Linked DNA regions of Homo sapiens. The protein of the gene in region 1 interacts with the protein of each later gene in a biochemical or structural test. Each region holds a gene or a part of one and is shown on either strand. Other genes may lie near its edges.

What was found.
Region 2: the proteins of TLK1 (region 1) and NEK1 form a complex in vitro, tested with the Homo sapiens proteins (one study listed by BioGRID).

The regions. Positions count from the first base shown.
Region 1 is NC_000002.12:171,007,178-171,011,102, reverse strand, and holds part of TLK1 (serine/threonine-protein kinase tousled-like 1), read left to right. Parts: intron 1-3,925. UniProt on the Homo sapiens protein: Rapidly and transiently inhibited by phosphorylation following the generation of DNA double-stranded breaks during S-phase. This is cell cycle checkpoint and ATM-pathway dependent and appears to regulate processes involved in chromatin assembly.
Region 2 is NC_000004.12:169,402,659-169,406,583, reverse strand, and holds part of NEK1 (serine/threonine-protein kinase Nek1), read left to right. Parts: intron 1-3,925. UniProt on the Homo sapiens protein: Phosphorylates serines and threonines, but also appears to possess tyrosine kinase activity. Involved in DNA damage checkpoint control and for proper DNA damage repair.

The DNA.
Region 1 (3,925 bases):
AGTCCAGGAATTCATGGTTGCAATAAGCTATGATTGCACCACTGCACTCTAGTATGGGTGACAGAGCAAGACCCTGTCTCAAAAACAAAAAAAAGAAGTACTTGTCTTTTGTTTATTGATTATATGTCCTCATTATAAAAAAGGGTTTGTTGTGGCTTCTGTTGTCTTATTTCCAGAATCCAAAGACTGTCCTTGCCACCTGCACAGTCCCTGTGATATTTGATACCTAGTCACCATTAACCAGTCCAATACAAAGAGTAACAGCTATTTAAATCAAGATAGGCAGGTAGCCATTTAATACAGTACACTTATAGAAAGATTGTACCCCTTAATTAAAAAATGTCTGAAGTATTAACATGTCCTGAATTTATCCAAATTTCTACCTATGTCAAGTCCGTTTCTCAAATGCATATGTATAAATGTAGCATTTTTACTCCCCATGTTCACTATTTTATGCCTTTCTTTTTTTTTTTTTTTGTACTTTATGTTGTATCTTTTAGCCTAACCTTTAAATATTGGATTCCTAAGGTCCCTTTTATCATTCTGTATTCTCCCTTAAGAAGGTTTTTATCCTCTCTCATTCACTGGGTTATCTATTTGGTGTCACCCCCAGGTAATATCTAGCTCACACTTTCTTCCTGAGTTCAATACCTCAAAGTATGTTTGTATACATGACTTACCTCATGTGGGTGCTTCATAGGTACTGGAAACTCACATTTGAAATAGAAGTTATCTTCCTCTCCTCTAAAATGTCTTTTAACACTGCTTCTGACTTCCCTGACCTCAGTATATAACATTGCCATTCATCTGCCTGGTCCCTCAAGTGAAAAAACACAAAAACCATCGTATGCTCTTCCTTTCCCTTTGTTCCCCTCCCCTCACATATTATAAGCCCCTAGTTCCTGCTATTATTAATGTCATTAAGTTCTCCTAAATTCAGCCATGACCCTTCCCTTCTGTCTCTTAGCTCAAGGCTTCTTCCGGAACCTCATAGCTGATTGTCTTCTTTTGGGCATTGCTTTTCTCAAGTCATTTTGTACACTGCAACTAGAGTGAACTTTTTATAAAAGGCAGCCTGATCATCTGTCCTACTTGAAAGCCCCAGTAGCTTCCCATTTGCTCTTGGGATGAAGTCCTAGTGAAGGGTTATATGCTCATCTTTAGTTCCTCTAAACAGCTTCCCTGACCCTCTGCATCTTCTCTGATAGATTTGGTGTGCCTTTTTATAAGCTCCTTTGTGCTTCATTACGTACTGGCATAGTTGGTTAAAAGCTTTGGTTCTGAAGCCAGACAGCTAGGTTTAAATCCTGACTGCTATTTACTAATTTTATTAATTTGGGCTTCTTATTTAAATCCCTGTCTGACTCATTGGCTCCTTCTGAGAATAATAACAATACCTACATTATAGGGTTGTTGCAGTGATTAACTGAGTTATCACATGTAAATCATATAGAACATAGGTGCTGAGATAAGCTGATAAGATTATTAGAAATCCTGCTTGTTGGCCATGGCTCACACCTGTAATCCTAGCACTTGGTGGGGCCAAGGCAGGCAGATTGCCTGAACTCAGGAGTTCAAGACCAGTCTGGGCAACATGGCGAACCCGTTTCTACTAAAAATACAAGAAAAAAATTAGCTAGGCATGATGGCACATGCCTGTAGTTCCAGCTACTCGGAGGCTGAGGCATGATAATCGCTTGAACCTTGGTGGTGGGAGGTTGCAGTGAGCCAAGATTGTGCTACTGCACTCCACCCTGGGGGACAGAGGGAGACATTTTCTCTCAAAAAAAAAAAAAAAAAAAAAAAAAAAAGGAAAAGAAATCCTGACTGTTGCATGGGACAAAGACTACACCCTTCTCGTTTCTGCTTCTGACTTGGAAAAATTATGGGATTTGAGTTAAGAGAACTTCAGTTCTGGTATCAGTTCAACCATGCACTATTTTTTGTTAACTTAGATAAGCATTACACGTCAGGGTCCTCACCTTCCTCATTCATCAAAAGTGATCTTTGGGCTCTCTTCCAATTCCTGTTTCTCTGATTCTAATAATAGTTTATCCTTAAGCACTTAATGGGTGAAGTAGGCTTACCATAAGGTAGAAAAGATTATCATGATAGTTCAGCTGGGATCTAAAAGTCACTAAAAGTGCAGTTAGCATTAGCGTGGCCTAAAAGTTGTTGAGCTTATGAACTTACCATGAGCCTTCATAACAACCCTCTGCTACTGCCTGGTTGTATTTTAAATAACTATTTTACCCTCATAGGTGAGGACTTTTGTAGAAGAGGCTTACATAGAGATTAGAAAGTGCAGATTGGGGCCCAGTGACTTGAACTTTCTATACTGACCTAAATACTAGTGACATCATTCTCTAAGCCCTTTAAAGCCCTTTCATGATTGCCAGTTCTGTTGGGAAACAACTAGACAAAAAGCAGATTGTAAGTCAAGAAGTAAAGAGTTGTATTTTATACCAGGATGGGAGATGTTGAGTCAGTTGCTGAGTGATTGCCATATTAACCTTATGGAAAGGTATACTTCTACTCACCTGAAATTTTGGGAGGAAGATGTGTTACATATAATTTATTATAATCAGTATACTCTGATAATAACTTTTTATTGCTTGCTTAGTTTTTTCTTCAATTATCCTTTACTATGATTGCCTTGAATTCTTTATAGATTTGTTCCGCCTTGTCCCTTATATAAACTTACTTTATTTTTATTCTTCTCAGTTTCTTTACACTTAACCCTTAATAATAATATGTAATTAGCTAATGTTTCTTGGCCGTACCATGTATTATTCTAAACACCTCATATGTTTTACCCCCATTTAATCCTCTCAATAACCCTAACTTTTGGGGCTCAGAGAGGGTATTAGCACAGAGTCACTCAGCTAATAAGCTAATCTGATTGCAAACAGAATATTCTTAACAACTGTGTGCTATATTATATCTGATCTCATACTTTTATAGTTTTGTACCAAAGTAGTCACTTTACTGCTTATCCCTTCCTGCTTATTTTTAGGTTAAATTGATGGGAGGAAATGGGGACCTTCTTTCTAATAAATACGTAAGCTTTTAAGTGAAAGGGGCACCTTTGTGTGTAAATCACAATGGAACCAAAATTATTAAATGTCTCTTTAATGGTATTCATTGCTTTTTAAAAAAACATAAGTCATGTAAAGCTGTTAAAATACTGATCATTCTGTGTTTTTAATTTAAGAAATAGGCTGGTGATTTGAACAAATCAAGTATAAATTCTTTTTGAGACAACCAGGGAAAATTGAAGACAGGTTAGGTATTAGATGAGATGAAGGAATTATTACTGATGTAGTTAGGTGTGATAATGGTATGTGGTTATTTTTATTTAAATACTGATGTGTTTACTGGGAGAAATAATGTATTTGTTTTAATAATACTCTGGTTGGGAAGGGTGGGATGCAAGGGTACTAGGGAATAGATGAAACAAGAATGGCAACATATTGGTAATTTTTGAAACTGGATGGTAGGGGCATAAGGGCACATTATAGTAGTCTACTTGTGTATATGTTTGAACAGTTTTATAATAACGAGTTTTTTTCAACAGTTGGAAAAATAACTGTTAGGAACTTTTTAATTTTTCTAAAAAGTGAGAAAGAAATAGGGGGTTGCTAGGAAAAGATAGATTTAAAAGGTTTTATCCAACCTACAAAAAAAGTGGTACAGTCATCTGTTTTCCTGGCTGCTTACTACTAGTATAGAGGAATAAGTCCATATTAAAAACAAATAATAGCTTTATTGTTTTATTTTTATTCAGTATATTGGCATTTATAAAATTTAATGTGAAAATTCACATTAAGGTTTTCTCTGATTTATTACCATGGAATTTCTGTCTTCTGATAATAAAAGTGTCATTGAGCTATATATAGTCTTAGCAGAGAAGATCATTAATAAT
Region 2 (3,925 bases), on another chromosome or scaffold:
TCATTAGTAAACAGCATTAAAAGATTTTCTGAATTTATATGTAAAAAAGAGGGGATAACTTACCTAGCTCTTTTTTTTAACTCATTAACCTCTGCTTTTATGTCTTCTGTATATTATTTTTATCTATTTTAAGAGACAGGGTCTCACTCTGTCACCTAGCTGGAATACAGGCTGGACACAGTGGCTATAATGTCATTAGTAAACAGCATTAAAAGAGTTTCTGAATTTATATGTAAAAAAGAGGGGATAACTTACCTAGCTCTTTTTTTTAATCATTAACCTCTGCTTTTATGTCTTCTGTATATTATTTTTATCTATTTTAAGAGACAGGGTGTCACTCTATCACCTAGCTGGAGTGTGGGTTGGACACAGTGGCTCACACCTACAATCCCACCACATTGGGAGGCCAAGGCAGGAGGAATGTGAGACCAGCCTGGGCAACATAGTGAGACACCATCTCTACAAAAAAAAATTTATTTTTTCTTTTGAGGTGGACTCTTGCTCTGTCACCCAGGCTGGAGTGCAGTGGCATGATCTTGGCTCACGGCGACCTCTGCCTCCCAAGTTCAAGCGATTCTCCTCCTCAGCCTCCTGAGTAGCTGAGATTACTTGCCACCACGCCTGGCTAATTTTTGTATTTTTGGTAGAGATGGGGTTTCAGCATGTTGGTCAGGCTGGTCTCAAACTCCTGACCTCAAGCGATCTGCCCACCTTGGGCTCCCAAAGTGCTAGGATTACGGGCATGAGCTACCACACCTAGCCAAAAAAAATTTTTTTAATAGCCAGGTTTGTTTCCACATGCCTTGTAGGTAGTCTCAGCTACTCAGGAGGCTGAGGTGGAAAAATCATTTGAGCCCAAGAGTTTGAGGCAGCAGTGAGCCATGATCATGCCACTGCACTCCAGCCTGAGCAACAGAGTGAGACCCTGTCTCAAAAATGAAAAATAAATAAGCTGGAGTGCACTGGCATGATGATAGCTCACTGCAGCCTCCAACTCCTGGACTCAAGCAATCTTTCCACTTCACTCTCCCAAATAGCTAGGATTACAGGTGTGAGCCACTGGGACTGGCCAAGTTAATTTATTATTGCAGAAAAATAAATTGATAAATTTAGTGTAGCCTAAGCATATACTGTGTTTATAAGTCTATAGTAGTGTATAGTAATGTCCTATGATAAGTACCCTATAAAGTTTACCATTTTTTATCTTTTATACAGTGTTTTCACTGTACCTTTTCTATGTTTAGATATATTTAGAATAGACAGATAGCATTGTGTTACAGTTGCTTCCAGTACTGAGTACAGTCATATGCTGTACAGGTTTGTAGCTTAGGAGTAAACAGGCTCTACTTTGTAGCCTAGGTATGTAGTTAGCTATACTGACTAGGTTTGTGTAAGCACATTCTATGATGTTAGCACAACAATGAAATTGGCTATAACAATGCATTTCTCAGAATGCTTCCTGTTGTTAAGCAATTCATGACTGTGCTCTACAGTTTCCCAGGAGAATGACCAGAAAGCTCCACATCTACCTCTTGCCATATATGATTTCAAAGCCATGCCAATGGGGAGTTAGCAGGTCGACCAGTTTTGTTCATGTGTGTGTGTGCACATGTGTCAGTGCACACATGTTTTCTGCATGTAATTGGATTGTTTTCACAAAATTGCTTTCTTTGTGATTCATGGGGAATCCTGAATCTAGGAGGGAAATTTAACAAGCAATACCTCTGAGAGCTGTAAGGAGTGATAACCCCTTAGATTGTGCACATGTACCCTAAAACTTAAAGTAAAATTAAAAAAAAAATTTTTTTCCATAAAAAAACAAAAAGAACCTTCCTTTACCTTGTTCAGTGTTGGTCAGCCCTCTCAACTGTCTTAGACAAATGTTACACACTTTTTGGTGTAATAAAACCAGAGTTTCCTAGAGTAAGGTGAGAAGGTACAGTGTGTTCAAATCACCTGGATAAAAAGTTATAAAATATTAGAATTTTTATAATTTATTTTGTAATTTCTTTGAACTTGTTTCTGCTTTTTACTTTTACCTTTGGAAAGAACTTGTATTTTGATCTGATTGAAAGTATTATATCACTCTCATAATGTTTTCTTCTGTATTGAGTTACGTAGGATCGATGCCGCTGGCACATTTTATTTTCTGGTTTTTGGTTCTTTTTTAAGCCTTGCCCTTGCTTCTTAAGTTTCTGGTGAAACTTCATTTTTAAAAGATTGCCTTTTTCATTTTTCCTAGAGTTCTGTAGATTTTTGCTAATGACCTTACAATCTAGAAGAAAAGTTACCTTTTTACTTTTGTTTCTTCTACTTGACTGTAGTCATTAAACACTGAAATATTGTGTTTTTATTAATCCTATTGGAGAACATAACAACATTCAGGATTTTTATTGTTGACAAACTGCTAACTAAAATTTTTTTCCCAAAAATTTTATGAAATCATTTATTTTTATCTGAATGAACTACAGCTTATTTGTGGCTTGTGTTCTTTTATTTTTTCTTTCTTCCAAGCTGCTAAGTTTGTGTTATGCATGTGTTCTTTTAATGAACAATTGATGACAGAATTTTATTTTAAAACTTAAGTTAGAAGCCTTTAGTATTAATTGAAAAATTCGAAAACCAAGTTGTTTTTAAAGTACGTTATTTCATATTGTTATAGGGATATTTCACTTGATGTTTGTCTTTGGAAAATTATTATTATTTTTTTTTGTCTAAACTTTAGTCAAGATTTTATAAGATAGCCAACTAAAAACTGAATTCAAGACCAAATTTTTTTAAGTACCTTAAAGTTTTTTGGTGCTCATTTAGTAAAAGATCTTAATCTTCTCATACTTTCTTACAGTGGCAAGCTTAGCTGCCTCAATTGAATACCATCTGCAGAGGGTACTAATTCCTCTAGGCCAGCCACTAGATGATTTTATGAACAGGTCAATATTTACTCATTGTAGTAATGGTACATAGCAGGTGTGCATACTTCGTTGATCTTTTTTTAATAATAAAATTTTTTGGGGGAGATAGGGTCTCACTCTGTCACCCTGGCTATAGTACAGTGCTGCAATCATAGTTCACAGCAGCCTTGGACTCCTGGGCTCAAGCAGTCCTCCTGCCTCAGACTCCCTAGTAGCTAGGAATACAGGCTCGTGCCACCACGCCTAGCTAAGTTTTTTGCAATTTTTTTTCTAGAGGGGTCTCGCTATGTTGCCCAGGCTTGTCTCAAACTCCTGGCCTCAAGCAATCCTCTTGTCTCAGCCTCCCAAAGGGCTAGGATTACAGGCATGAGCCACTGTACCCAGCCTAAATTAGTCTTGTAATTATATATTAAGTTAAATGCTACTAGTAGGATGATTCAAGAGATTAGACACTATTTTCTCATTCTAATTAGATGCTTTGCTTTTCTATAGCTCCTACAAGTCAAATTGTAGGCGTTTGTACATATAAGTACAAAATAAAGATATTTCTACATAAAAAGATTATTTACTCTATTAATGGAAATTATATTGACAGTCTTACACAATAGTGTTTATATTTTAGTTCTTCAGTAAATATTTGATTGGAGTCTAAACTTTTAGAAAGGCCTTAATTAGCCCTTGTGTCCTGTTAAGCATTGCCTTCCTGATAGATGAAATCCCGGCTTAGGTACATAATCTCTTTTAGAAGTCTTCAGACATCTAAAACATCAGTTAACTCCTTTAGTCTACAAACTTTTCCATTTACATTCCATGTTAGGATAAAGAAGCAAATCATAAGAGGAAAAAAATTTTTCTGAGTATGTTTCTCAGATATTACAGAAGTGGTCAAAGACTAGATTTCAGTGCTCTGTCATTTACTGACTATGTGGCCTTGACCAAGTCATTTAAACATTTTGGTTCATAGTTTTCATGTCTCTAAAGTGATTTTTTGTGGATAAAATTTGAGTAGTAGG